Linked DNA regions of Homo sapiens. The protein of the gene in region 3 interacts with the protein of the main gene of each other region in a pairwise test. Each region holds a gene or a part of one and is shown on either strand. Other genes may lie near its edges.

Region 1 (7,765 bases), on a different chromosome or scaffold from region 3:
GCTTATGACCCTGAGCATAACTTGTGAGCCTCAATCTCCCCGCCTGTGAAGTGGTAAAAATATCTATGATTTAGAGGTATTGCAAAAACCTATGAGATTGTGAATATAAAGAATAGTGGCTAAAAACATATCTTAACTGGCCCAAAACATCCACTTTACCCATCATTCACATTCTTGGATAAAAGAATTAAAACATTAATTAGGATATAAACTTAGTTTTGTGTACCGAAATGTCTCAAAAAATGACAATTCTTATCATTATCAGTGATATAAACTAAACTTAAGAAAAAAACATGTATTTCTTCTTTGAAATGGAGGACATTTCCCCCAAACTGTTAATTTTTCAACAAGAGGGAAAAAAAAAATGACAGGACACAAATTTTTTTTTAAAGACTTATTTCAAGCAGCTAATTATTTGTTCATTTGTTTAACCATCCCTTGGGACAATCTGTAATCTACTCTGATAAGAAATGTGTAGAAAACAGACCTGACGTTTTGTTGTTGTTCAATTATTAGGATACTCAATGTTTGAGCTCACACAAGTATCCCTTAGGGAAATGCTCTGCGTGCCATTAGCACTATTCTTAATGAGGAAAAGCACAGAACTCCTTTAGTTCATTGCCAGAATTGTTTTATCTTCAAGTCAAAAGAACAACTATTTGGAGTAATACCAAAACAAGCATTTAACAATTACAAGCAGCAAGCTATTCATAAGCATCATATTGTTAATGCTAATCCAATTATAAATAACCTTATTTTATCAAATAAAATATCTGTCAGCAAAATTTTCGGTCCTAGACACCTCTTTACTTGACTGCTTTATTCCTTAACTTTAAGAAAAAACATCTTTATTGCTTCAATTCAAAGAATCTCATTTTAAAGACTTTTTACAGAAAAGATACAGAAAATCCTTCATTATTTTAATCCATGAGTAAGTTATCTTCAAAGGAAACTTACAAATCATAAACGAAGGCCTAAAAGAGACCACTGTGCTTATAATAATCCTCAATGATACAGTGAAGTAGGAAAATCTGAAGATCTATCATTCCCATTTTCTTAATGTCCTATCTTTCCAAGAGTACAGCACTTCCTTCCTGCATTAGGAAATAATCTACTGAATATTTCCCTTTCACCTTTTTCTCTCCATTTCTCTGTTCTGTAAGACAATGTACAGCTTTCTAGGTTGCTTTTGGTATCATTATCTATATGGCCTTGGCCCTTATTTAAACTCTTTATCTTTATACTTCACTGATGCATGAGGACATACAAAATAGAACTACTGGGCCAAATACAGCAAATCTGAAATGTCCCATATGTCCCACAGATATTTGGGGAACTTGATGTTGTCACAATTAGTAGAGCCTAATCATGCACTAATAAGGAATTGAGAAGTCTAAACATGAAAAACTTTTTCACACATGAGGCACCAACATTTTGGGGAAAATATGTGAATTTTTATTAAAATACAAGTTTTAAGCAGACTGAAGTCCAAAGTGAGAACTACTGTGATCAGCTTTTATTACATTTATTAACTGTCATGAATTTTTGCAAGATAGGCATACTACATGATGATGTGATAGAAAAAATGATAAAGATTATGGAAGTTATTCAAACTCTTGCCTTTAGTCATTCAGGTTAATAGGATACTTAGGAAAAGCTGTAGAATTGGATTTCTGTTTAATACAGACATTTAGACTGTACTGCTGCTTCAGTTCAAGCACTTTCCAGAAACTAAGAGACCTAACTTGGTCCCCCACCACCACCAACACTACCACCCAGTAGCCCTCAAGATTACACACGCATACCTAACTTATGTATAGCAGGACTACTCTGTCTGAAATATTTTCCTGCTATGAATCTATCTGTAGTATGGTCACAGCTACTATTATAAAGATATTCTCATGTTTTCTGCCAAGCTTGATTTACCTTTTACTTCACCCTTCTTCCCACCAGTACTTCTGATCCTGTCTCCCACTCCAGCCAAATCTGTCACACTTTACAGGTTGTGCCACTTTACAACAAACTAAATTCATGAAGTCATCTTTATTGTGTGTGCTATTATTAAGAAATCAAATAAACCCCTGATATTAATAAATTATGATGGCAGACTGTATTTCATTTGGTAATATGTTATAATGACTCCTCACAGAACTGTTTTACACTTCAGTTTCCAACAATGCACCCTCAGTTTTAACTAATGTATGCTGGTACTTTCTCTTACCCATATTAGAAGACATATCAACATTTCTGAAAAAACAAGTGCTGAAATTATAAACGTTTAGGCTAAAACTGGGTATTCGTATTAAGCAGATACCAAATAAACTCATTTCCCAGTCTTCCTGCAAATCTTAGGGTACTGATATTGAGCATTCCTAATCCAAAAATCCTAAATCCGAAATGGTCCAAAATCCAAAACGTTTTGAGTGCTGACACGATGCTCAAAGGTCATGCTTAAAAGAAATGCTCATTGGAGCATTTCAGGTTCCTGGATTAGAGATGCTCAAGCAGTAAACTGTGAATATTTCAACACTCAAAATCTGAAACACTTCTGTTCCCAAGCATTTTGGATAAGGGATACTGAACCTGTATCTGAATTATCTAGTATCTGTCCTATCAATGAACCCACATTAGAAAAAGAAGAAAGAGGAAAGAACCAAGCACTTTATACATTTATTCAATTTATTTGAAAATAATGATAACCACCAAGATCCAGTATACCCTCAAAATTTTTTTTTTTTGAGACGGAGTCTTGTGCTGACGCCCAGGCTGGAGTGCAGTGGTGCGATCTCGGCTCACTGCAACCTCCACCTCCCGGGTTCAAGTGATTCTCCTGCCTCAGCCTCCGGAGTAGCTGGGATTACAGGCGCCCGCCAACGCACCTGGCTAAGTTTTGTATTTTTTAGTTGAGTCGGGGTTTCACCATCTTGGCCAGGCTGGTCTCGAACTCCTGACCTGGTGATCCACCCGCCTCGGCCTTCCAAAGTGCTGGGATTACAGGCGTGAGCCACCACTGAGATGTGCCCTGTCTGAACACATCCTACATACTCAAGAATAAAGTTCATCCTATTAAATCTGTGTTCTCAAATACTTTATTAAAATCAATCAATGACCATCACTACACTGTTAAAAAAAACATAAAGCCAACTTGCCTTTGGATTACTTCTATATTACTACAAAGTTGCAGTTCTTTAAAAGCCAGTATTATTATTTCATCAGGTGTCACTTAAAATTCATGCAACTCACATGTTAATCATGTAGCACACCATTTAAAATATATATTACCCTGAAACAAACCTAGACTTACCTGTAGTAATGGCTCGATGGAACTGATGCATATCTTCCCCTGATAGCTCTTGGGCTACCTGGAATATCTTTTGTCTGACACCATCCAATTTAATTTCTGATTCAGTCAATATATCTTCCATATCAGGAGCACTATGATCAAGATATTGGGAACTTTTAGAACATCAGATGCTTTAACAGTGAAAAACTAAAATAACCTAATTATCAACATAGGGCTAAATATTGTATGCATTCATATACTTCTAACTCAAAACTACTCAAAACTATTCATAGTATGGAGAACATGAAAATGTTATTAACACACTGTTAAGTGAAAAAAGTATACAAAAATTGTATGTTTACTATAAGAAAAATTTTGTTCATAAAAATATGATATATGGATAAATGTCTGCTTTCAGTAAGGGCAGAGTAACGTGGACTGGATTTATCCTCCCTCCTTAAACAACTAAAAAGAAAAAATAAATACAGAAAACAATGGTTACAGACACTGGACTACAGGCAGCATGGAGCAGTGATCCCTGGGGAAAGGGAGGAGAACAACATATACCCTCTGACTGCCCCATCTTATTGCCTGGAAAGCTTCCAAGTGACAGTACAGAGACAGGAAACTTAGGTGGAGCCTGGGAGTCAGCCTGAGTAGAAAAGGAGTTGGGAGTTTTGGGGGATCGAGACAGCTAAAATTTGCAGAGCAGAGTAACAATGAGGAGAAAGCTGTATAAACAGAGAGCTTCAGAGATTTATAGAAGCAACCTCCTCAAGTCTTCAGTTGAGTACTGATCAGTGCAGGCATGTGAGGAAACTACCTAAGGCTGGAAAAAGAATTGCCCAAAGTGAGCAGGCAGAACAATCCCCTTAGTTCACAGAGCCGGAAAGAATTGATTTATCATCAGCAGATTGACACTACAAAAAATATTAAAAGAAGTTCTTTAGGCAAAAGGAAAATGATACCAGATAAAAATCTGAATCTATACACAAAGGAATGAACATTTACAAAAATTGGTAAATGTGGATAAATATTTTTCTTATTTTTAAATCATACTGTTTAAAGTAAAAATCATAACATATTGTGGAAACAACAAAAGTAGAAATAACATGAATCACAACAGTAGCACAAAAGGCCAAGCTAGTAGAGGGGAAATGGAAAAGGAAGTATAAGATTTTTATACCATACGCGAAATGATAAGTAGTCCTTACTTTGCATGGTACTGTGTTAACTGAAACTTGGGCACATCAAAACTGTGACCTTCACTGGCAAAGTAACTGTTACCAAAAAATCATGCAAAGTGAAAAGATTCTTGTATGCACAAATTTTAGTAAACACAGTATTGTACAAAGTGAGAATAGTTGACAATAAGATATATATTATGAACCATAAAACAATCACTACAAAAACAAAACAAAAAAGGCATAGCTAATAAGCCTACAAATAAGATAAAATGGGATCATAAAAAATTATCCAAAATAAGGCAGGAAGGAGAGAAGAATAGATGGTAGATTTAATTATAACCATAGCAATAACTGCATTAAATGTAAACGGTCTAAACACCTGCACTAACAAGCAGAGATTTTCAGAATGGATTTTTAAAAAGCAAGAGAGACAAGAAATCCATGTTAAATATAAACACAAATAGATTAAAAATAAAAGGATGAAAAGATATACGTTCTAATAACAATCAAACGAAACAGGAGTAGCTATATTAACATCAAACTTTGGGCAAAGCCTATATCCAGGGATACCATCATAATGATAAAGGGTCAATTCATTAAATGCATAACAATCCTAAATATTAATGTACCAAATAAAAGAGCTTCAAGATACTTGAAGAAAAAACTGATAGGACTTCAAGGAGAAAGTCAAATCTACAATTATCGTCAAGAGAGGTCACCCTCTTTCTCTCTTAATAACTGATAGAGCGAGTGTACAGAAAATCATAAGGAAATAAGTGACGCGAACACCACTATCAGCCAATCTGACTTAATTACACCTAACAATAACAGAATACACACTCTTCAAGTGCACACACAACATTTACCAGATAGACCATATCCTGGGCCAAAATTAAGGCTCCATAAATTTAAAAGGATTCAAATTATAGAAAGTATGTTCTCTGACCACATGAAATTAAATTAGAAATCAGTATCAGAAAGTCGTCTGGAAAACTCCCAAAATATTTGGACACAAAATAACATACTTAAATTATTCTTGGGTCAAAGGTGAAATCAAAATGAAAATTAGCACCAATAAATTTCAAAACTTAGAGGAAATGGCAAATTCCTTGAAAGACACAAACTACTGAAGCTCACTGAAGAAGAGTTATCTATGTCTATTAAAATAATTTTGTAGTTAAAATACATGAGGTCCTCTCACAACAGTTTTTCAGCTGTACTGTGACTGGCTCATTTCTTTCATAAAGTTTTTTTTTTTTTTTTTTTTTTTTTGAGACAGAGTCCTATTCTGTCACCCAGGCTGGATTGCAGTGGCACAATTCTGAGTTCAAGCAACCTCCGCTTCCTGAGTTCAAGCAATTCTCCTGCCTCAGCCTCCCGAGTAGCTGGGATGCCACCAAGCCCGGCTAATTTTTATATTTTCAGTAGAGACAGGGTTTCGCCATGTTGGCCAGGCTGGTCTCAAACTCCTGACCTCAAGTGATCTGCCTGCCTTGGCCTCCCAAAGTGCTGGGATTACAGGCATGAGCCTCCACATCCAGCCTCTTTCATGAAGTATCTTTACTTTCCTGAAGTTTCTAATATTTCTAAAGTTTCTATTTTTTTCTTAAGTTTCTTATTTTTCTGAAGTCTATTATTTTCTCAGTTTACTAGTCAAAACTGTATGAACAGTATGATCACAACTATGATAAAAAACAGTGCACAAAATAAGAAATCTGCTAGTTGATAGAGGCTATCTTTGGGTACTACAGACTGATTTGTCTCATTAAGTAGCTTTACCTTTCTGCCATTCGTAATTTTTCTAAAGACTACCATTTTCTAAGTTTACTATAATGAGCATTTATTTTTTGGTGGAAAAATATTTAAAAGATGACTTCACACAGTAACGCAGATTTTTCTAAAATATTAAGGTCTCCTGTCATATTCCTATTACAGGTTGAGCATCCCTAATCTGAAAATCCGAAATCCAAAATGCTCCAAAATCCAAAACTTTCTTAGCAACAAGACACTCTAAGGAAATGCTCACAAGAGCACTTCAGATTTCAGATTTCCAGATAAGGGATGCTCAACCCATACATTATCTGCAAGTATTCCAAAATCCGAAATCCAAAACACTTCCAGTCCCAAGCATTTAGGATACTCAATCTGTATGTTTTTCTTTATATTATTGCTTTTGTTATTTATATTACTGCTGAATACTGATGGCAATTGTTTTAGAATTGTAATAAGTACTAAAAAAAAGTGTCCATAATTAATAAGAACAGTATTGCTTCTTTCGATAATACAAGCCTTATTATGTACAAGCTATCTAAGAATGATATGAGAAAACAAGCAAAAACTAATTTTACACAGTCAGGTAAGAAAAAGAAAATGTTAACAGTGCCATATTTCAATAAATCTATGTATGGCAAATTAGATTCCATTTAATGAAGTAAAAATTAAAATGTGAGAATTATCTTAAAAGTTTCATGTTACTGAACGGAATACTTCAGTATCTTTTTTTTTTTTTTTTTTGAGACAGGGTCTCATTCTGTCGCCCAGGCTGGGGTACAGTGGCACAATCATGGCTCACTGCAGCCTTGACCACCTGGGCTCAATCAATCCTCCTGCCTCAGTCTCCTGAGCAGCTGGGACTACACTTGCATACCACCATCTCCAGCTAGTTTTTTGTATTTTTTGTAGAGATGGGGTTTTGCCATGTTGCCCATACAGGTGTGAGCCACCATGCCCGGGCAATAATATCTTCAATAACGAAAAGCTAATAAATTATATGTGATCTTCCCTACATTCTTTCTGTGACATATAGTATAAAACCAATCACAGCTACCCTTCTGGAGACATCTGGAATTTGTAACAACAATCCGTCTTCAGAAGCTGGACTAAAACACGTAAGCTGGGGAGTTGTAGGGTAGATACTATTCTACCTCTCGTGAAACAGGCAAAGGAATCAGGTCAAATGAATTATGAAGCAAACAAAGAAGCAAAGATGGAAGATGGAGATCCTCAGCTGCTCATAAGATAGTGCTGAATCTTGGGAAGTTCTAATTTTTCTGAAGTCTGCTATTTTCTCAGTTTACTAGTCAAAACTGTATGAATAATATGATTACAACTGTAATAGAAAATAGTGCATAAAATAAGAAATCTGCTAGTTGATAGTGGCTTTTTTTATAATTAATTTCCCCGTTCTGCTTAGACTAGTTTAAGTTAGTTTCTTTTACTTGCAATCACGAAGTCTATCAAATATACAAAGCCTGCGTAGAAAAATAAAATAGTAAAGTCCTAGAGAAAAAAATGT
Region 2 (7,765 bases), about 48 Mb from region 3:
TGAGTAGTGTACAGTGTTGAGTTATTGTCTATGTTGTAGACATTGCTGACCAGAGATACGCTACACTCCCCCACCCCTTTTCTAAATGTTCTGTTGTGGGAATCTGGGTTCTTATCTGGATACAGGAGTATCTTTTCTGGTAAAAAAAAAAAAAAAAAAAAAAAAAAAAAAAAAAAAAAAGAGAGAGAGAGAGAAAAAGCCCTCTTGTGTACTTTTTCTTTAACTGGGAGAAGTACATATACCTTTAACAGGCCAAATAATGCTGTAATTAGCAAACTGTCAATAATTATCAGCAAACACTCTTCTCTGAGCTTTTTATGGTTCTTTCACCAGATGCTGTCATTCCTTGAGCTCTATTCAGTGCTTTGATTTAACAATTACTCTTTTTGTTCAGAAATTGCTTATTTTGGGAACAACATATATACATTTGCATTTTTAAATGTTAATTTTTCTTTCTGGATGGAAAACAGCCAGAGTTGAAACAAACTAGCTACTTAGAGTTATAATTCCATGTGAGGGTACAATTTCATGAAGGCCATAGTTTCTGGCCTAAGGAATAAAAACAAGGTTGAAAAACAACTTACCTTCACATAGAGCTGCTGAAATTCCTCGAGATTTAGCCTCCCACTTGGACAGTCCTTGAGAAATCCTTTGTACCACTGCTTGAGTTCATGCTCATTAAACTCTGTGCTCTTCACCAGGTCCTCCATCACTTCAGGGGCCAGTTTGCTATTCTGCTTCCCCATCCTGCCTGAAGAAAAGCAAATTAATTCAATTAGCGCTGTGGCTGTGATCATTTCAAACTTGGTTAGGAGCCAAGCTAGAGTTCTGAGCAGTCCCATGGTCGGAACTCCCTCCAGTGTGGCTGATGCATATCTTCCCAAGTCTGCCTCCTTCTACTTGGTATTCTAGAAAAATATATGAGTGAAATAGACTCTTCTGACAGTTCCAAGGGCTGTAGCATTCACTCTTTACCTCATTGTGTCATCTTTCATATGGTGTTGACTCCCAAATGGAAGGCAACCATCCCTTTTTATGCTATTCATAGTAAGCATATAGAAGTTGTTTTTCTTTTCCTTCTACAAATTACACTTTATTAACACTTGCCTCCCAGGTGTTTAACTCTACATTTAGTTTAATGGGATACTCAGTGGGATTACTGACAAGAACAATGAGAAGACTTTATAACTAAATGATCAGTAAGTGGCTTGGAATATCCAATCAGCAATATTAAGGAGTCTCAGTTGGTCTGGTTCAAGTTGGAGCTTTTTTCCCCAATAAAAACAGCTATTTCTATTAGTCACACTAATTCTCTATTTCTCCTCTCATAATTAGAAAGTTCGTACAACATTGTCTTCAGAGTTGACAAAATCTTAATGGTTTTCTTCTAGGGATTGGTTGGGGAGTTTTTGTTGATATTATTCCAGACTGCTATTATTTCTGATTTTGAGTTAAAGTAATAGTGCATAAGATAATGTTACCTATATCCATTAAGCACCAGGTTGTGTGGCCAACATCACAGCAGGGAGTAGGGAGACAGAGCAGGCTTGAGATAATTCCTGATTTTTCTTCCTGATTTGGCCAATTACTACATGTGTTACTTAGGGCAACGTTAATTAACTGCATTATCTTCAACTTATTCATTAATAAAGCAGACATAATAATGAAGCTCTTTCAGATTCATTGTGATGGCTGATTAACAAGTAAGTAGGTAAACAAAGGCCAAAAAAAATTCCAAAATTAAAATAACTGCAGGAAAATTAAAGATAATTTTAAAATTTTCCCTTTAAAGTTGCTTTATAATAAATAATAATAAGACTATTGCTAATAATAATAATAAAAGAATTAACACATAAATTAACCCCAGATTGATTTAAAAAGTCAAGTTAAACTTGAAAATTGGAAAATTTCCAGAATCTGGAAAGTGCCAGATGATCTTTCAAATTCAGTTAAAAGATACTGAGTTAGGGTTGAAGAATTAACCAAGTGAACCTAGTCCTTCACTGTGCTTGAGACAAACTCTCTTTCAAGCTGCAGGCATGTCTACACTTGCAATAGCCTGGAAGGGGTAATCTCATCACATACTTTATTGTCATGATTTTTTAACTTCTCCTAAAACAGATTCCACACCCATTGTCAGTAACCTGCCCCAACATTGGCCAATTCTTTCACTGTAATGAAACTAAGCCACTCTTGCTACTTCCAGGGAAATTTCCACTCAGCACAATCTCGGCAGCACAAAATGCAGTCAGATGATACCATTAAGATGGCCATTTACCCTCCAAACTCGTCAGCATGAGAAAAGGGCCCAGTATCAGCAACTCTTCCCTTTGTCATGGGGCTTCTCTACTTATTTTTGCTCTGAATTCAAGTTCCAAATCTCTTATAAGCAACTGTCTATTAATTATAAGTTACTGTGGAATTCCACAGCTGGGTGTGGAAATCAAGTGGGTACTCAGGTGTCAGGTTTAATTAATGTGAGTAAGAAAACTCTAATTCATGGTTATCCTGAAAATCAAAAGATGTATTATTGTGAAACCTTTCAGTACTTTACTTTGGTTTTTTGGTAGAGAATTACAAACCTTCATTCTTAAACTAGAATCTCACCTAAGAAAAATAGCTATTTAATATTGAGTGCTGGCGATGGAGAAGGCACTTAATGGAACACCTCACAAATTTCATCTCCTGCTCAGCAATCACCGAGCAATCAGGATTAGGGGAGCTCCCTGGGGCTCAGAACGCTTATGGTAACTTGTATAAGAGCATACAATTAATGCATGGCGGAGCTAGAATTTGAACCTGGATCTATAGGACTCCAATGTCCAATCATAGACTGGTGGATGAAAGACATTTCAGGAGAAGGAACAGGAAGAGCGAAAGCAGGGAGGCTTCAGAGAACTGAATCAGTGCCTAGAGGGGATGAAAAAGGATCACTTTGCCAGCCTGGCTGCCTTGTTTGGAAAAGACTTAAATTTACCAAACCACAAGCTCAGAAGTGACTTTGTATTAAAAACCACCTCCCCCAAGTGCCTTTAGAAGTTCAACAACGTATCAGCTTCTTTGTTAGGCAAGGAAGCTTGGCTTCTCCATGGGTCACTTGTGATGTCTTAAACTGTTCCAGTTGACTTTGGAGAGGGTGGTCTCTTACACACACAGGAAATATTGTCAGGACTGTGAATCACAGTTTGGAGACTCAAGTGCATAACTTCATGCTTCTTGTATGGGTCTGCACCATCACTCAGGTGTGTTGGGCAATGGTTGAATCACACAGAAAGTCAGGTTCTGGCCTGGCTCAGAATGGCATTGCCACTGCCCTCATAGGCCTCATCAGATCTTGCCTTGATTAAAGATTGGCCTCCCCACTGGGCTACCTGACTCCAACCACTCTCCTTCTGCACAGCTGCCTGAGTGAATTTCCAGAATACAAACCTCATTGATCTACTCTCTAAAAGCCTCTGTACTTCTCCTTAGTCTCCATGATGCAACCTCATCTCCTTAGCGTGGCTCAGGTCCTGCCTACTTATATCCTCGTTTTCTGCCAATCTGTCTTTTCTCATGTGTCAGTGATTATAAACTATTATAGATTCCAGGATTGCATGCTTCCACACTTCCATGGCTCTGCATATGCTGTTCTCTTCTCCTAGAATGACTTCCCCCCATTTTCTGCTCAACAGACTTCTTCCCCTTCTTTAAATAGTCTCAATTTACACACCACCTCCTCCATGAAACCTTCGTGGACTCTCCATGGCAAACTTAGGCACCCATTCTCTTAGGTATCTCCCTTTCCTTGTAAAAGCTTCCATGATCATTATGTATTTCTCTACTGGATTGTTATTATGGTTTCTTGAGAGAGAGGACTATTATTTATTTATTTTTGCCTCTTGGTAACTCCTATTAGGTGCTCAAATAATATTTCTTGAGGACATGAATAAATAAGGGGTCTGAGATATTTGGTATTTTTTTTCTGAGAAAATGTCTCATAATCTATATATAAGGAGAGTCAATGCATTCACAAGTATAAATATAAAATGCAGTTGGCAGATGGGAGAAATATTTCATTTAACTGCATGGAAAATATTCAGCCCTCCTGGAGATTGTCTTCATCATTAAAATTGAATACCTTGCAGGTGGGACCCATGTCTTTTATCTCAGTATCTTCAGTAACTGACATAAAGGTGGTGTTTAGTAATGTGTGATAAATGAATGAAAGTGTAGTTAGATTAATACTCTCCACCTATAGTCCTTTTGCTCTGGGCTGCAGTGATATGGGCCAAGCAGTATCTTTCATTATGGGACCAGCATAACAGAAAGAGTACAAACAGTACATTTTATCACATTCCCAATAAAGAGATTCCGCTACACCATATGAGGGGGAAGCAGGCTGGCTCTGTCTCTAACTTACTCTGTGATCTTGGCCAAGATCCTTTCCTTCCTAGTTACTCCATTTCCCCATTTAAAAAATGAGGAGTTGGACCAGATGATCTTTAAGGCCTTTCCAACTCTACCATTCACTGATTTCCCACATAGGTTTTGTAAATATGAAAATATGAGTCAGACCTCCTATTGGCTTGTCTCAACACATGCAGGCTCTGTGGATTCTTGACCTGAGAACCCATCAGCATTTAAGTGTTTATTACCGAAGAAGGGAGGGGACAGAAACCGGAGTGTATTACTTTTAAGCTGGGATTTCAAGCTATAATATTAAAGCCAGCCCATCCCCAAACCAAAAGAATTTCTCACTGCTTGTGTTGTCATACAGAGAAGTTCAGTGCTAGGCACAAAACAGGACTGGTGGAAGGGCTTTGATGGACAAGAGAACTTCAAATGATAGAGCCCTTGTGGAGGAAAGCACAGTTTCACTTAATGGCAAATGATGTCCAGAGAAGATGGCACTTTTGTACACTAATTTACAAAAGGCTTTTGTGCAACAACATTGACCCATATAAACTATTGACCCCTTTTTTACAGCATTAAAAACAGTATTTTTAAAAACTGTAAAAAAGAGATTATGATTGTTTCCTTTTTACTGATGAGAACTTTGAAGGCCAGAGAGATTAAGTAATTTACCCTAGCTAAACCAGCTAGTAAGGGCTTAGTAAAGAATGCATGCAGTTCTCTCGCACCCCACTGCTTTCCTAATAGAGGCCATCATCTTCTCTCACCTGCAGGATCATCTCAAAGATACTGCAACTACCTCCCAACTGGTCTTCCTGTCTTGAGTTTCGCTCATCTCTCATCCATTTCCTACCCTGTCTTGATAGCAGGTTCCAGAGCAGAAGAGGCAGAGGATTTAAGAATGCTCCTAGAAGAGGACCAGGAGAACTTCGTGGATGTGGAAAGGGCCTACAAGGGAGCCAAGAAGCACCCATGAGCATCTTTTTTCCATAAGCCCTTTGGGTATTAAAGAGGATTGAAACAAAATATATGTGTGTGTGTGTGTGTGTGTGTGTGTGTGTGTGTGTGTGTGTGTGTTGCCCTCAGCCTGTCTCTTACCTACTGTATCTAAATCCAGTCTTCCAGAACATACCAGGGTCTGCTGAGTATGAAGAGGCACACAGAACTGCATATCCAGCTCCTCCCAGGTAATCTAGCAATCAGCCTAGCTGAATCTTAGCAAGATTCATTTAAATAAAAACTGAGTGGCTGAAATGGAGCAGTCCCACCACATGTGCAAATACATAGCAGGATAAACACAGCAGTGGGAAAACAACCTTGGAAATAGGGCTGAGAGCAAAGGAAGAAAGGGCTTTAGGGGCTCAGGTTGGAGACCTGCATGTAATGCAAGTATGGAAAGAGGCTGCAATGGGCTGGTCAGTGACAGATTACTTAGGTCAGTCTTGAATAAATCTTTTCTTTGAGCCCTAGGCTCTTCACTCATATCCTGAAACAATTGCCTTTGTAGAGACTGGCCTTCTCATGCTTAGACTTCTGCCTGGAATGCCCCTTGTGCTTTTTTCCTCCATCTATCTAAACCTTACTCCTGCTGCAAGACTCCATTCCAATCCTGTTTTCTCCATGATACTTCTCTGCCAACTGTTACTACTCCTCTCTTTTCCTTGTATTTGATATTGTGGTTAATAATGACCCATGGCATAATTAACTTGACGGAATCAGGCAGAAAACTCTCTGCACAACTAAGTTTGGCAGATGTTTGTAAGAATCTTCCAGGAGAAAAGCTCTGTGCTAGGTAAGGTGGGATATAAACAGAAAGCATGGTACCAATCTTAAAGGGCTCAGACCTGGATGCAGGAGACATTTACAAGTCTTGGAATATGAAGCATGATGAAATGAATACTCATAGTAGAGAGCTACATAACACAGAGGATAGACAAACAGACAAATACTGACCAAATCAGGCACCTTCACCTGTCACCGGTCCCCAGGTGAAACCTCTTAAGCAGTCTTTCCTAAACTTGTCTGAATACAAGAATCACCCTTGGTTCTTCCTTAAAAATACAGCTTAGTGGGTTGATCCCTTGCAGGGAAATCTGTACATTTAAAAAGCAACTCAGGGGAATATGATCATGAGTCAACTTGGGAAATGCTGCTGGAAAGCATAAATAAAAATCGAAGTACATGATCTAAGAAGCACACCCCAAACCAGCACAGACATAACCCAAGGTCTCCCTGATTCCTCACTAACCCCATCTGGCATTCCTGATGTGCTTTCAAGATCCTTGTACTGGGGACTAGCATTAAGAATTCCAAAATTGGCCGGGTGCAGTGGCTTATGCCTGTAATCCCAGCGCTTTGGGAGGCTGAGGTGGGCAGATCACCTGAGGTCAGGAGTTTGAGACCAGCCTGGCCAACATGGTGAAACCCTGTCTCTACTGAAAATATAAAAATTAGCCAGGTGTGGTGGTGGGCACCTGTAATCCCAGCTACTCGGGAGGCTGAGACAGGAGAATTGCTTGAACCAGGGAGGTGGAGAAGGTTGCAGTGAGCCAAGATCGCACCATTGTACTCCAGCCTGGGTGACAAGAGTGAAACTCTGCCTCAAAAAAAAAAAAAAGAAAAAAAGAATTCCAAGATCACACAAGGGAAGACCAAAGCTTGAAAAGATTTGCCTGTAGGCTCCTCTGCTTTAAGCCCTTTGGTTTTAGGTTGGAGAGTTTGAGGCTCAGGAAGGTGATGAATTTTCCCAGATCACATGGGCAGCTGATGGCAGAGCTGGGATGAGAAGCCCATCCCCCCACCTGGATGGGTGTCCCCCACTCCCCACCCCCACAGCATGCTGTCCCTGTGTCTAACACTCAAAGCTTGTAAGCCACTACCCATGTTTCTCTCTGTGCAAGGATGTTGAAACAACCCCCAGCACCACCCCCTTGGATCCTATAAACAACTGACACCGGATTGCTGGTTTCCAGAGACTGTTAAAAACAGCCTTGAAAACCATGCCTTAAAATTGCCCAGCATATTGTATGTTTTTTTTTTTTTTATAATGAAGGCAAATATCTGACACTATGCCTCTTTCTGTTCCCCTCTTCTTTGTCCTCCAGAAGCCAAGTACTCACAAGCCCCCAGCAGCATTTCCCAGCGGGCAGGGAGGGTGTGGACCACAAGCTGGCATTTCATGATGTGTCTGGGGACAAAAGCAGCTTCTGGAAAGAACAGAAATCCCTTCTTACAGCATCCTCTGATGACATTACCTCAAAACCTGAATCTCCTGGAATTATAGTTGAGGTTTCACCCCATAAGCATGAAACAGGAGGGGGCACAGACTGAATCCCTGGGGACTCAAGATAAGGCAAACATATTTTTTTAA
Region 3 (7,765 bases):
TTTTTTGGTGGGGACGGGGTTTCGCTGTGTTGGCCGGACTGGTCTCCAGCTCCTAGCCGCGAGTGATCCGCCAGCCTCGGCCTCCCGAGGTGCCGGGATTGCAGACGGAGTCTCATTCACTCAGTGCTCAATGGTGCCCAGGCTGGAGTGCAGTGGCGTGATCTCGGCTCGCTACGGCCTCCACCTCCCAGCCGCCTGCCTTGGCCCCCCAAAGTGCGGAGATTGCAGCCTCTGCCCGGCCGCCACCCCGTCTGGGAAGTGAGGAGCGTCTCTGCCTGGCTGCCCATCGTCTGGGATGTGAGGAGCCCCTCTGCCTGGCTGCCCAGTCTGGAAAGTGAGGAGCGTCTCTGCCCGGCCGCCATCCCACCTGGGAAGTGAGGAGCGCCTCCTCCCGGCCGCCATCCCATCTAGGAAGTGAGGAGCGTCTCTGCCCGGCAGCCCATCGTCTGAGATGTGGGGAGCGCCTCTGCCCCGCCGCCCCGTCCGGGAGGTGAGGGGCGCCTCTGCCCGGCGGCCCCTACTGGGAAGTGAGGAGCCCCTCTGGCCGGCCAGCCGCCCCGTCCGGGAGGGAGGTGGGGGGCTCAGCCCCCCGCCGGGCCAGCCGCTCCGTCCGGGAGGGAGGTTGGGCGGGGGGTCAGCGCCCCCTCCCGGCCAGCCGCCCGGTCCAGGAGCTGAGGGGCGCCTCTGCCCGGCCGCCCCTACTGGGAGGTGGGGAGCCCCTCTGCCCAGCCACCACCCCGTCTGGGAGGTGTGCCCAACAGCTCATTGAGAATGGGCCATGATGACGATGGCGGTTTTCTGGAATGGAAGGGGGGGCAGGGTGGGGAAAGGATTGAGAAATCGGATGGTTGCCGTGTCTGTGTAGAAAGAAGTAGACATGGGCGACTTTTCATTTTGTTTTGTACCAAGAAAAATTCTTCTGCCTTGGGATCCTGTTGATCTATGACCTTACCCCCAACCCTGTGCTCTCTGAAACATGTGCTGTGTCCACTCAGGGTTAAATGGATTAAGGGCGGTGCAAGATGTGCTTTGTTAAACAGATGCTTGAAGGCAGCATGCTCGTTAAGAGTCATCACCACTCCCTAATCTCAAGTACCCAGGGACACAAACACTCTGCCTAGGAAAACCAGAGACCTTTGTTCACTTGTTTGTCTGCTGACCTTCCCTCCACTAGTGTCCTATGACCCTGCCAAATCCCCCTCTGTGAGAAACACCCAAGAATGATCAATAAAAAATAAAATAAAATTAAAAAAAAATCCTAAAAAAAAAAAAAAGAAAGTGAAAGATAAACCAGTGGGTGGTAATGTAACAGAGTATGAAAGGTCCATTGATAGATTTCAGATTCCACATGGTTGAGTTTTAGTGTAGTATCAAAGAAGAATATCTACAATTGTCTGAAAAGGCTATTAAAATATTTCTCCCCTTACTAACTCCCCTTCTCTGTGAGTAGCTGTATTTTCTTTATATACTTCAACCAAAATAATATATTACAGATTAAAAGCAGGAGCAGATACCAGAATCCAGCTATTTTCTGGTAAGCCAGATATTAATGAGATCTTCAAAAACATAAAGCCATGCCACTCTTCTCATAATTACTTTTGTTCTGGAAAAGTTATACAGTTATTTGCCATAAAATGTCATTTATATTAACAATACTGTTTAATTAAAAGTTTTAAATTTTTTCCATTTTAATTTCTAATATGGCAAGTTATAAATAGCTGTAACTCACCAAACCAAAAGCTCTCTGAGGTCCTGAATAAAATTTTGGAGTGTAAAGGGATCCTGAGACCAAAAAAGTTTAAGAACTGTTACTGTCCATAAATCTCTGTGTGTTTAAGTCTTTTTCTAAAGGATAGTGTTCTAGATGTGAACTGCTAGGTAAAAAGATATGCACATTTAAAATTAAAATCCTGCCAAATTGCTTTTCAAAGAGCTTTGCCAGCTCAAATTCCCACCAAATGTTATGTGAGAATGCTCGCTGACCTACACATGGGCAATGACTGGAATGATCAAACTCTTAGATTTTGTGATTAGTCTCCATAAAGAGGTTTCTCATAAGATTTGTTTCAGGAGTAAACTCCTCTAATCCATCTAAAAATGAGATTCAACTCAGAAAATTTTAATTTAAATATAATTTCTCAGGCTTGACTGTCCCCAGCTTACCAAAAAATTACCTGACTACTCGTGAATGGTTGTCTGGAACAGAGACTTTTCCCACAGAAACAATGGTAGTTAACAGCCCTCAATATGTAACGAAACAAACTCCCACAATGTGCTGAATTCTAGATGTGCACTACATTGTAAAAACTGACAACACTGTTTCTATCTGAAAGAGCACTTCATGCCCTAGTTGGAATACTGGGAACTCTGATACAATCCATCCAATATATCCTAAAAATAATCTTCATCTTTTCTTTGCCATTCCACCTTTTAGAGGGGGGTTCCTCAATAACTCACCACATTTGCAGAGCTCCCATGTGGGCGCATGGTCTCCAGTGGGCACTAGCATTGCATTAGAGAAGCTTGAGAGGCCAAAGGAAGAGTTATCATATCTCTAAGGAGAGAGAAAGGGGCGGGGTGGTGGGGGGGAGGGCAGTGAGAGAGAGAGAGGAAGGGAGACTGGGTACGGGCGTGTGTGTGTGTGTGTGTGTGTGTGCATGTGCATGAGTGTGCTGGGTATGGGTGTGAGGGGAGGGGTTAAGTACCACTCAGTACAGAAATCCAGAATTTCCTGGAGTGTGAAACAGGCAAGGTGAGGGATGGAGAGACAGAGAAGTACAGCAGGACATATGGGTGTGTGACTTAGGTACTAGTGAATATAAAAGCCCACAAGTGTGGAGTCAAGGAATGTAAAGGGGACAGGAAAAGGGGTGGGGAAATGGAGAAACATGATGGGGGAGGGGATGAGGCACACTTTTAGGATAGTGCAATCTGTGTACACTAGCAACAAACAACAGCAGTTGGTCCACGACTCAGCGGGGGCGGACAGAGGACTGGACTGCCCTAATATTATGCCAAGTTAGTGTGAAGGGACAGGCTTTGATTTTGCAAAGAAATGAGCTCAAACGCAGGCTCTGCTGGTGACACTGCCCACCCCATGCCAAGGACGTGGCTCACTTCTTAGAGCATTGAGTTTCCCCACTACAATGTGGAAATAGTAGTATCTTCCTCCTTCAAAATGTTGCAGGAATTTAACTGAGGTTATTTACTTAAAGGACCTGGAACAAATGGTAAAAGTTTACTATGCACTAGTAATGTCTTACCAGTGACTAGATTAGATAAGCTAAAGGGCCACTTTAGGTTGAAGTATTCTATGACAAACCATAGAAATACCAGGAAAAAGTAGCTCTAAAAACATAAGCCTTCAGACAAGATAATCTGGTAAAACACAGAATAACCCTAAAAACAAAAAGACCAAAGAAGTGGAAAAAAATTTCTATATATATAAAAATAAGAACTAAAAGGGCAAGCAACAGATTATAAAAATATACTTGCAGCAAATATGACAGATGGAGATTCATATCTTTATTATGCAAGAGGGCATACACATGAAGGAGAAAAATAAGGCCCTGATAAGTAAATATACAAAGGACATCAACAGATAATTAATTCACAGTTATAACTGTTTAACAAACAGAAAAACATTTTATTAATTAGCAAGCAATAAGATTTTATATGTATATTTTATATACATATATTATGTATGTATATTTTATATACGTATATTATGTATGTATATTTTGTATACGTATATTATGTATGTATATTTTGTATACGTATATTATGTATGTATATTTTGTATACGTATATTATGTATGTATATTTTGTATACGTATATTATGTATGTATATTTTGTATACGTATATTATGTATGTATATTTTGTATACGTATATTATATGTATGTATATTTTGTATATGTATATATGTATGTATATTTTGTATACGTATATTATATGTATGTATATTTTGTATATATATTATATATGTATGAATATTTTGTATACGTATATTATATATGTATGTATATTTTATATCCCTCAATGTGTTAAAGGAAATTCTAATACTGGTAGCAGCTCCTTGCACATGTATCAAAAGTCATAAAAATATGACCTCCTAAATTATTCCAAAACTATAATAAACGTGGAAAATTCACATAGGTGTATTCCTAACACTGAGGTGAGGGGAAGAACCTTAATATTTGACACTAAGGAGGTGGTCAAATAATGAAACATCAAACTGATATCAGCAACATGGAAAATTTCATATGAGAATGTTAGGGCAATGTTGTTTCATGATAGTCTTGAAAGAGAATGTTTAAGGCAAAATAAATAAGATACACAACTGTTTAAAAATATGGCTGGGCACAGTGGCATGTGTCTGTAGTCCCAGCTACTCTGGAGGATGAGGTGGGAGGACCATTTGAAGCCCAGGAGTTGGAGGCCAGCCTGGGCAACAAAGTGAGATCCTGCCTTTTTAAAAAAAAGTACAAAGTGGGAAAATTACATCAAAGGGCTAAGGGTGGTTGTTCAGTTTTGGGGTCAGAGTGACAAGAGAATCAAATACTGGTTCCAGGCCCCCAAAACAGGCCACTAAGAACAAGGAATCTTTCTGAATCATAATTTCTTCAATTACAATTATACAGGCTGCTGTAAGGATACAATGAGAGATCTAACCGAAGGGCTGGATTATACTTAGTACATGGTAAATGCTAGATAAATGGTAGTCATTTTACTTTTTATTGGTAATATAGTTACATTGCTTTTTATTGCAAAAATATTATAAACAAGAATGTTTTCATTATTTGACTATTATATAGGGTATTTCCTGAACAAATACTTCTTAAAATTAGCTGTCTTCTCCCTTTAAATTTTCAGAAATGAAATCAAATGTGAAAATAACATTTCTGTTAACCCACATGTAACATTTACAAATTGTTCTGTCTTATCTATTTTCTAAATTTTTTTAAACTATAAGAAGTGCTTGCAAAAGAAGGTTAAATTTGTACACTTAACACATAAAACCCAACAGATGCTGCTGTAAAGGGTCTCAGATGTAACACTGACATATTCTTGTGGTGTCTTTGCATTTTCTCTGTGGGATCCTGCACAATCCTGCACATTCTGAATCATCTGTTGGCTTCTGAGTATACACTCCATGATCAAATACAGATAGAAGTAGTGTTCTTCCATGTTTAGGGCCATGAATTTAAAACAGATTTTGGACATTCAATTTTCCTTCCTATCATAGATTCCTTCATAACATAGAACTGAACATTTGAGTTCCTCCATAAGACCATATATTATGAAGTGTCAATCCCCCACCCTTGGGAGGTGATGATTACTTTCCAAAGTATTTATCTATAAGCATGGATAATAATTTATAGAAGTATGGGCCAGGCACGGTGGCTCATGCCTGTAATCCCAGCATTTTGGGAGGCCGAGGTGGGTGGATCACCTGAGGTCAGGAGTTCGAGACCAACCTAGCCAATATGGTGAAACTCTGTCTCTACTAAAGATACAAAAACTAGCTGGGTGTAGTGGCGCGCACCTGTAGTCCCAGCTACTCAGCAGGAGAATTGCTTGAACCTGGGAGGTGGAGGTTGCAGGGAGCCAATATCATGCCACTGCACTCCAGCCTAGGTGACAGAGCGAGACTCCGTCTCAAAAAAAAAAAAAAAAAAAAAAAACCCAAAAAAACCCACAAAGTATGATACCACTACTTCTTGTTACTTTCTTTTTCCAAGCATGTTTTATTCATTAGGGCATGAAATAAAAGCTAGATAAACATTTATTTATAAGTAGCCTAATGTCAGATGACATCTTGCCTTTCTGTTTTACCTGCCACCATCCAAACCTCAATGGCATGCTCCATGAATAAACTCTACATTTTTAAAACACTGACTTCACAGCTCAGTACAATGTGATTCATAATAATAAAAGAGTACACTTTTGTTTTGAATACCTTTTTACAATGATAGACATCTTAATCAAAGATGCAAATAAAACAGCCAAATATACTTCTAAGCATCTCGGATAAAGCGTGTGGTCAAAAGAGACTTTGCTGGAAAGGACAGTCACGTTTTACAATTTGGCACCAGCTCCGGGGTTCTAACTTTTGAAGCTTTTGCAAGAGTTTGAAGTCAGAGAAAGAAAGAAAAAAATACGTTAAGGAAAGAGGACTATGATTTAACGTAAAGAAAGCAGTTGTTACTAATTTAACCCACGAGTTGTATGTCTGCCATTACCAGTTTGTCTTTCTGTCGTTCACCATGGATGAGAAAGCCGCTTCGTCCATTGCCTTCGGGGTGCATGACCTTACAGACCCCGACGCGACTGATCCCGCCTCCTTCCTGTGGGAACCATCCCCCGCTGGAGTCATCTCTGGTCATAACCACAGCCTTGACACGCACAATATAGCTGTCACTAAAACGACAAGAAGAAGAAGCACAGGGCATGACAATGGTCTGGTAGTTGCAGAACACGTTTCAAAATGCAAGATGACCACCAGCCAGCACTTTTTTTGTTTTATCGAAAGAAATCTATGCTTGGCGGCAACCTTAAAAAGTGGTCCATCTCAACTTTTAGGGAAAAAACAAAACACTTAAACTCAATATAAAAGTACATTTTAAAAAAGATAAGTAATTAAAAATTACTTGTGATCGAAAGATGTATACAGGCACAATATTCTCCAGTTTCTAGGTGTAAGTACTGATAAATGAATTGATTTCTGTAATTCAGTATCTTTAGGTTGGAAAGACACACACCTATTTTGGTTTTTAGTTGTTGTTTTTTTTTTTTTTTTTTTTTGAGACGGAGTTTCGCTCTTGTTGCCCAGGCTGGAGTGTAATGGCGCGATGTCGGCTCACTGCAACCTCCGCCTCCCGGGTTCAAGCGATTCTGATTCAGCCTCCCAAGTAGCTGGGATTATAGGCACCTGCCACCATGCCTGGCTAGTTTTTTGTATTTTTAGTAGAGATGGGGTTTCACCATGTTGGCACGCTGGTCTGGAACTCCTGACATCAGGTGATTTACCCATGTTGGCATCCCAAAGCACTGGGATTACAGGCGGGAGCCACCACGCCCAGACTACAAACCTATTAAGACGGTATTATGGTTTCAACCCTTTAAAATGAGTTGAAAATGAATGACCAAGTTTTAACATTTTATAAAGCCAAGAATCTCATTTAGCATAAAATAGGATAATCTACTTGCAAATCATAAATTCACCATGAAATCACGTATCTAGGTAGGAAAATATTTCAATTCCAATAACCCTTTACATATTTGTAGACTTCTGTTTATGATTTTATTTCTTCCAGTCTAAAACCTCAATTTCACAATAAGTTCTTCTGCACATTTGCCAAAAATCCTTTTTCTCCCCCAGAGACCAATTCTAGCTTCTTTTCATTCTTCATCACTTTTGGGGGAAATTTATTTGGATTTTTGGCAAGGCCATTACATTCTCACTTGCTGTTTTCTTTCTTTGGATAGAATTCATTTTTACTCATTCAAACATATATTTGCGTGTTGTATATGCCAGGCGTTATAACAGATTCTCAGGAAACAAAGTTGCAGAGTAACAAAGAACCCCCATTATTCCCTGGGCCTCAGGGAAGACGCCCTCACCCTGGGCACTCAGAACCTGGTCCCCACAATTGGCCAGAGACGTGGAGGCAGTCCCTGTGCCCCACAGCCCTGCTCACCTCACTCACCGCTAAAGGCAAAGCCACCAGATTTTCTATGACCCCCTATGGCTCACCCTCCA
Region 4 (7,765 bases), on a different chromosome or scaffold from region 3:
GTTCCTGGGAGTTGGGAAACTAGCTGTAACTGCTCAGCCTCTTCCTGGGGCTCAGAGGCTTGCTTGTCCTGGATATGCCCTCCAGCTGCAGGCAGGAGCCCAGGTGGTGGAGTGCCTCGCAATCAGATCCACTTCAAGTCCTTGCTTACTAATCACTAGCCAATCAAGAACCTCCCTGCATCTACGTTTCCTACTCTGCAAAGTGAGAATAATAATGAAACCATTACAGGACTCCTACAAAAATAAAAAGATTACTTTTTTGGGGGATCCCCACCAACAGAGAGGTCCTACTAGACCCCCTGGAAAAGGCATTTGACTTTCATTCCCCAGGCCCTACCTGTGTCTGTTTAGACTCCTACTTTAGTCACATTTTCTGGCTTCAAATCCCACACAAAGGCTCTGTATGTAAACCAGGCTGCCATCCTGCTCTGGGATTCTGAACATTATCAGTGAAATCCATTATGCAGGCAAGTCTCTAGTTGCAGTCCACATGGCTCTGTCCTGCACCCTGTTCTGGCCCATGTTCTTAGAAGCAACTTAGATAAAGACCTAGAATGCCTCCTTATCATTTCTTCAGGTAGCAGAAAACTTGGAGGTACAGCTAAGATGATGGCTGGTGGAGTCAAGATTCAGGATCTCTGTTGGCTGGAATAACATTTAAAATGAGTAAACTAAAACTTAATGGGCGTACATCATCCTGCACTTCTTTGTTGTTAAAAAGAAAGAGAGAGAAAGAAAAACAGACAAGCTTGATTGCAGAAATGCAAATCTGGAAATCTGACTTCTTAACAATTTATATGAGATGACCAGGGCTGGGGTTCGGATGTCAGGCCTAACACTTGAGCTGTGTGATTGTGGGCAAACCACTCACCTTCTCTGGATTCTATTTTCTTATTTGTAAAATGAGGCTTAAATCAGAAGTCTTAGCAAAAGCCTCTTCTGGCTTGATATATAATTTTGTGTAATACAATACACATAGTTCCATAATCTGTACTTTAGGCCAGTATTCCTCAGACTCCAGTGGGCATATAAACCATCTGGTGATCTTGTTAAAATGCAGGTTCTGACTGGGTAGGTCTCACTGAGTTGAGGTTTTTTTTTTTTTTCCAAGATGGAGTCTCGCTCTGTCGCCCAGGCTGGAGTGCAGTGGCGCGATCTCGGCTCACTGCAAGCTCCACCTCCTGGGTTCACGCCATTCTCCTGCCTCAACCTCCCGAGTAGCTGGGACTACACGCGCCCGCCACCACGCCTGGCTAATTTTTTTGTATTTTTAGTAGAGACGGGGTTTCACCGTGTTAGCCGGGATGGTCTCTATCTCCTGACCTCATGATCCGCCAGCCTCGGCCTCCCAAAGTGCTGGGATTACAGGCGTGAGCCACCGCGCCTGGCCGGGACTCTGTATTTCTAACAAGCTCCCAACTGATGCTGAGGCTGTTGGTTGGAGGAGCACACTTTAAGTGGAGTAGACCCAGATAGTAACAATTTACCTTTAGCGCATTCTGAGTGCTGACCGCTGCATCTTACATGCATGACTGCATTTAATCCTCATAACAACCTGGGAGGGAATTATCAACAATACTTTCATTTTCTAGATTATGTAGAGATGAAAGTTCACAGAAGCGAGGTAACCTGCTCAATGTCACACAGCTAATGAGTTGCAGAGCCAGGATTTGAATTCTAGGTCTGCCTAACCAGGAGTGTATGCTCATAACAACCGTATAACATACGCAGGTGATTTGGGCCAACATGTGGCTAAGGAGAGAAAGGAGATGAGCAGTAAGGTACTTGCAAATGTACTAGCAAGTTCTTGTGTTTTTTTCTTAGCAGTGATAACCACTTGTAAACCGACTGATCTCCTTGCCCACCTGGACCGTGTGAAAACTCTGATCCTGGTCCCTGGTTCTGAACGTTTGCAATTCTAACATACTTGGAAGATATTTAAACACTCTATCTTCACTGACAGGCAATGATGGCTATAACAAAGAGAGAAAATTTTAGTTCACATAAATGATTAGAGCAGAGGAGAGATGTTTAATCCTATTAATGAATTTGCTAATTGGCCTTCTGCCCCCAATCATTTCATATTCAGGCTTCCACAGTGTCAGATGAAATGGAAACAGATCTAGGGGGAGGCGGGGTTGGGATGGGGCTAAAAGCATTTTGCTCAGGGCCTGCACGTAGCTCAGTTGTTCCGTGTGGCTAATGAGGTGCTTCAGTCTATCCTTGAATGCCTTCTCCCCAACATCCATGCACCCGTTTTGACTGTTTTTCTACTCAGGTCCCTAAGGTTCCAGAGGCAAAGCCAGGAGGAGAGGAGGTTAGTATGGCAGTTAGAAGCTCAGGGTCTGGGATCAACCAGAACCAGGCTCTGCGATTCCCAAGCTCTATGACCCTTAGTAAGGCACTTCCCTTTTTAGAGCCTCAGGTTCCTCAACTGCAAAATGAGAACTGTAATAGCATCTTGTCCTCCAGGGTTGGGGTTAATAAAATAACACAGGAAAGAGCCGAGCAAGGTGCCTGGCACTGGGTGGAGGCCAGAGTCATTTGAGCTAGTATTATTATCCTTCCTGGCGGGTGACCTGCATTTTCATACCTCACTGTTGGGAATTGCTTTTACCATCTAAAGTTGACAGCTTCCCTTAGGAATCACCAGAGAAACTGCTTAGAATGCCAGTGACCATGGATATGGTGGCTCGGGATCTCAGAGGGCTGGAATCAGAGGCCACAGCTCAAAGGGATGGGGAGATTACCAAGGGTAACACCGTCATCATCCAAGTGGAGCAAGGCAGAAGGAAGGGGCCTGTCCTGAGATGGGACAAAAGGCAGCAGCAAAGCCAGCACTGCCAACTCACCTGGTGTGCAGCACCATGTTCAATTCCTTCTTGGCCCTCACGTGGCCCTATAGGGAGACACTGTCATTGTCCCCATTTTTTAATTTTTATTTTTTTTGAGACGGAGTCTCGCTCTGTCATCCAGGCTGGAGTGCAATGGTGCAGTCTTGGCTCACTGCAACCTCCGTCTCCTCGGTTCAAGCGATTCTCCTGCCTCAGCCTCCTGAGTGACTGGGATTACAGGAGCATGCCACCATGCCCGGCTAATTTTTGTATTTTTAGTAGAGATGGGGTTTCACCATATTGGCCAGGCTGGTCTTGAACTCCTGACCTCGTGATCTGTCCACCTTGACCTTCCAAACTGCTGGGATTACAGATGTGAGCCACCATACCTGGCCCACTGTCCCCATTTTATAGAAGAGGAAACTGAGGCCTGGAAAGGCTCAGCTATGAACCAATGAAAGGGAGTTCAATCCCAAGACTCTTATTTTAACGCGGTGCTCATAGCCATAATGCAATCCTACTTCTAGCTTCCTGATTTGAGTGGAATGTGGTTCCTACTTCCCCCCACCGCACCAATGAGGCTTTTAGTCTGGCCTTGAATAACAAGATTTAATCCAAAGTACTACTCCCATGGCTGGGGTACGGGAAGCTAGCAATATCCCAACTGACTACCACTACTTCCAGAAGGTGACCTATTTAAAATACTACCCGGAGGAAGGGGAAGCATTTAAAGAGATGTTTCTCTGAAGGCCCTAGGACTCTTAGGCTCTCTCTCTCTTTTCTAAAAACTGTTCCTTCCCTGCCTGATGAATGGGAACATCAGCTCCACGGCCATTATGCAGAATTTTGCAGAGCTTCTCCCCAGGAGCAGACCTGGATTCCTCATCTGCACCGCCGCATTCTCACACCGCTCAGAGCCATCAAGAACGCACACTCTGGCCCATCCATCCTTACCTCCATGCCGCCAGCATCCATCAAGCCTGGATGCAGTGTCAGGCCTGACAGAGGCCCTGGGATAAGACTCAGTGCCTGAAAGCTAGTCAGAGAGATAAATGTGTAAACCCATAATGACAACCTCATAGTGTGTTCAGAATTGTAGTTAAGGGAAGCAGCAGCAGCTATGGGGAAAGAGAGAAGGCAGAGATGTGCTCTGCCTACAGAAGCCAGGAAAGGCTTCCCAGAGCGGTGGCATTGAATGAGGCCTTGAAAGATAAGTAGGAGTTGGCCAGGTGAATGAGGAGATGGAGGAAGAGGGAGGATGAGGAAGCCAGAGTGGATCTTAGGCAGGGAAGCAATGCTGAAGGACAATTGTGGGACTGGCTAAGTGAACAAATAAATGAGTGGATAAATATACAGATTCTGATCTCACCCAGGCAAGGGTGAACGAACCTGAAATATAAGGGAAGACAAGGGGAATCACTGTGAGTCAGTCCCTGCTTTTGTTTCAGCAAAAGAGTGAAAACTTAGAGACATCTCCTCACCTTCTCCAAAGACACTATACACCTACCAGTATCCAAAAAATTACCAGGACTCTTCTTGACTGAATTTATATTTTTCAACTTTGGGGAGATGACTATCAATGCTCTTTGTGAAAAGATAGGCTGTTAATTATAGCTGTTCTGGCACTTCATCATTCATTCATTTATGGACATATTCATTCATTCATGTGGTCATTTATTCGATCATTCTTTCTGTCATTCAGTTGATAATTCATTTGTTGCTTCATTCATTCACTCCTTTACTGCTTCCCCCATTCATTCAATCATTCATCTTTTCACTTATTTGTTAAAGCATATGCTCACTTATTCACTTACAGATTTACAAAGCATTCATGGAGCAAGGCCCTTCCAGGCAGACAAAGAGGTCTAAGCCTTGGCCCTTTTCCAGAGACCAAGTCAAAACAATCCCACTGATTTTAGGCAGTAAGTCCTTCTCCTCTGTCTTCCATTCTTTTCCATCTCTCTCTTTCTGTTTATCTTGAGCTCCATTGAGCTTCTTCTGGGATTGAGGGACCAGAACTGTGCCTGGTGCTGGGTGTGGGTTCCTCATACCTTTGTGATTATGAGGGAGTGGGAGTAGAATCACTGTTCTCAGCACTTTCCTGCTAAATGGTAAACAGATTCGGTACATTTCATGGACAAAGTCAATTCAAAGCCAGCAGACCGAACAACAGAATTCATTCCTGGCAGAGGGCTGGTAACTGAAATTCCGGTGGGAAGCTAACTTTTCCTGCAGGGTCTGCAATTCTAGCAAATAATGGAGAGTGGCCAACCATTCCATTATTTATAGTTTACTCTAGGAAAATTTTTATTAAGTACCTACTATGTGCACAGAACCAAGCAGAGAGTTGTGAAGGATGAGTTAGACGAGCTCCTACCCCCAAGAACCCTGACCTCTGGTGGTGGGGAAAGGGGGTTAACACCTCCGTTGATTGTCTAATTCCAAGCGCGATTGTGAGTCATAAGAAAATGTACACCTTAAAAGAATATGGGAATTCAGATGGGAGAAATCACTTCTCTCTGGGGCTTGGAGAAGGCTTCCTGAATATGGAAATTGCTGAGTGAGGTCTTGGAATGTCGGTGGAATTTTAACTATTAGACAAGGCAGCAAGGGGTGGGGTGGGAGAGCATTATAGAATTAAAGGGACAGGCAAAGATGCAAAGATGGGTAAAGACCAAAGCACAAACATTTCTATACATCAGGATTCTCCTTTTGCAGATAAAGAAACTAGCATTTACAAGGTGAAATGACTTGCCAAAGGCCTGCCCCTTGGGCTCAGGACTATGTGACAACACGGCTACTGCTTCTCTATGCCTGTCTGTCTCTTGTCACTCTCCCATATCTTTAGGTTGAAAATGCTGCCCTGACCAATAAACCCTAAACCCAGTCTCATCAGGTACACTCTGCTTCCATAAGTTCCCTGAGGTGCTCATTGATCTAGGAGCAAATATGGGACTATCGGGAACATTCCCATGTTTGGCCCTATATTAACCAGTACCCTATTAACTCACCGTGTGGCCTTAGAAAAAGCATCTGATAGCCATGGGGTTGAGTCATAGCTCACCTATGCTATGACTATTCTGGAGATCCGAAGCTCAGCCCTTTCAGAAAGTTCTGCATGCTTGCACTCGGTCATGGAGGATTTCTAACCCAGCCACCCCTGTAGTGTGGGATTATTTGCTTCTAGGCAATTCTCTGTTGAGATGGCCTTGGTCTAGTGATGTTGTCCCTAAATTCTCCTGCCCCGCTGACAAGCCCAGCAGCTGCACCTGTATGGTCCTCCTCTGGTTCTCCTCAATGCCCTAGCCTGTCTCACTTACCCATTCAAGGCCAGGAGCAGTGTCCTTGGTGTGTCATGCACATGCAAAACTGCTAGAGTCAGAAATTCTATCTGGGACTGGGATGCAGAGGCTGAATCCCAAAAGCAGGGCTCTCCTACTTTTAATTAAAGACACACAAAGATCCCAAACAGAGAGAAGGACAGGAAATGAACCTGAATATTTTTATTCAGTGGCATGGCTCTTAAATTACTTTAGATTTCTGTTGCCTTTAGAGAGCGCTCCCTGAACACCCAGGTTGGGCTGGATATCTTCTTGCAGCACTAATCATGCAGAGTTTTTGCCCTATTTAAAAACTATGTATGTTTCTAAATTGTATTATCAAGGCATTCAGGATTTTAATTGAGCAGGCTTTGATGTTTTCAGGACAAGCCACAGAGTAGAGGTCAGTGAGGGTTGAAGCAAGGGACGAGCATCTGTGTGCTGGGGTTTTTGGTCCTAGTTATCTGGATAGGGCTGGATAAGGTTTCCAGAAATGAGCTGTTAAGGCTCTCAGATGTACTGCCTACTTCGAAAATGGCCTTACTCTGGACATTTGGAAGCCCCAAACAATAGAGCCATAAATTGAATAGTACCTCAAATTTGCTGACCACTTATGTAGCAGAGACTGTGCTAAATGCTTGACTTGCATGATCCTTGAAATCCACACAACACAACAGCTATTTTAAGATGGTAACTACTACTATCTCTGTTTTATAGTTGAGGAAAACAAGGCTTAGTCATACAGCTAGTAAGTGGCAGAGCCTGAATTTGAACCCAGCAGGGAGACTGATTCCTGAGTTGAAAAATCCCAACTGCTCTCTTCCGGTTGCTTCTAATTAGATCTGAGCCTCACGTCTCTGAGATCATAGCAGCAGCTCTGGTGAGAGCATCAACCATAAAAATATTAGAATTTGAGAACCAAATGGAACCTGAGGAAATGCCTAATGTAAGTTTCTCCCTTTACAAAGAAGAAACCGAGGCCCCAGTGGGGAAAAGTGACCTGGCCAGGATAGGCTCCCTGACCACTAGCCTCCTCAGCCAGGGCTTCCTCCAGGTTTCCAAGCTGCCTCCCATAGAAGGGTCTTCTGCTGATTAGCATTCCACTATGCAAGGCAGTGAGATGACTGTGCTTCGGGGGCAAATACCTGGGGGAACATATGCAGCTGGACCCCTGGACAACTCACGCCAGTGGGCTTTGTGCAGGAAGGGCTGAGTGCCCAGTGCTTCGATAGCTTGTCTTGGGAGTCCACCCATTGGCCCCGAACCTGCTATGAGCCTCAAACGAACATTGTTGTGAGGGTTAAATGAGAGTTGTTGATAAAACACCGAGCATTATGGCAAGCACACAGTAGGGACACACTGAATGCCAGTACCCCCTCTTCTGTTTCTTAGAATCCGAGGAGACAGAAGCAAAGACCTTTGTACTCTGGGAATCCTGCAGGAATTCATCCAGGGTGAATTCCTGGATGTTTGGGGCAGGAGAAGGAAATGGTAGACAGCAATGTCTGAGCTCTTACTCTTTTCCCAGCCCTATGCACGGAGCTCCCTATTCATCATTCATTTGATTCTCACATCCTTACAACAACTTCCTCTGGGTCCCTGGTGGCTGCA

The links.
Region 1: the proteins of SPRED2 (region 3) and TSNAX interact in binary tests that used the Homo sapiens proteins (3 or more experiments, as listed by UniProt).
Region 2: the proteins of SPRED2 (region 3) and VSNL1 interact in binary tests that used the Homo sapiens proteins (3 or more experiments, as listed by UniProt).
Region 4: the proteins of SPRED2 (region 3) and KCNIP1 interact in binary tests that used the Homo sapiens proteins (3 or more experiments, as listed by UniProt).

What each region holds. Positions count from the first base shown.
Region 1 is NC_000001.11:231,538,151-231,545,915, reverse strand, and holds part of TSNAX (translin-associated protein X), read right to left. Parts: intron 3,436-7,765; coding exon 3,305-3,435; intron 1-3,304.
Region 2 is NC_000002.12:17,585,056-17,592,820, reverse strand, and holds part of VSNL1 (visinin-like protein 1), read right to left. Parts: intron 752-7,765; 5' UTR 747-751; coding exon 585-746; intron 1-584.
Region 3 is NC_000002.12:65,338,474-65,346,238, forward strand, and holds part of SPRED2 (sprouty-related, EVH1 domain-containing protein 2), read right to left. Parts: intron 6,424-7,765; coding exon 6,246-6,423; intron 1-6,245. UniProt on the Homo sapiens protein: Negatively regulates Ras signaling pathways and downstream activation of MAP kinases. Recruits and translocates NF1 to the cell membrane, thereby enabling NF1-dependent hydrolysis of active GTP-bound Ras to inactive GDP-bound Ras.
Region 4 is NC_000005.10:170,506,393-170,514,157, reverse strand, and holds part of KCNIP1 (A-type potassium channel modulatory protein KCNIP1), read right to left. Parts: intron 1-7,765. UniProt on the Homo sapiens protein: Regulatory subunit of Kv4/D (Shal)-type voltage-gated rapidly inactivating A-type potassium channels. Regulates channel density, inactivation kinetics and rate of recovery from inactivation in a calcium-dependent and isoform-specific manner.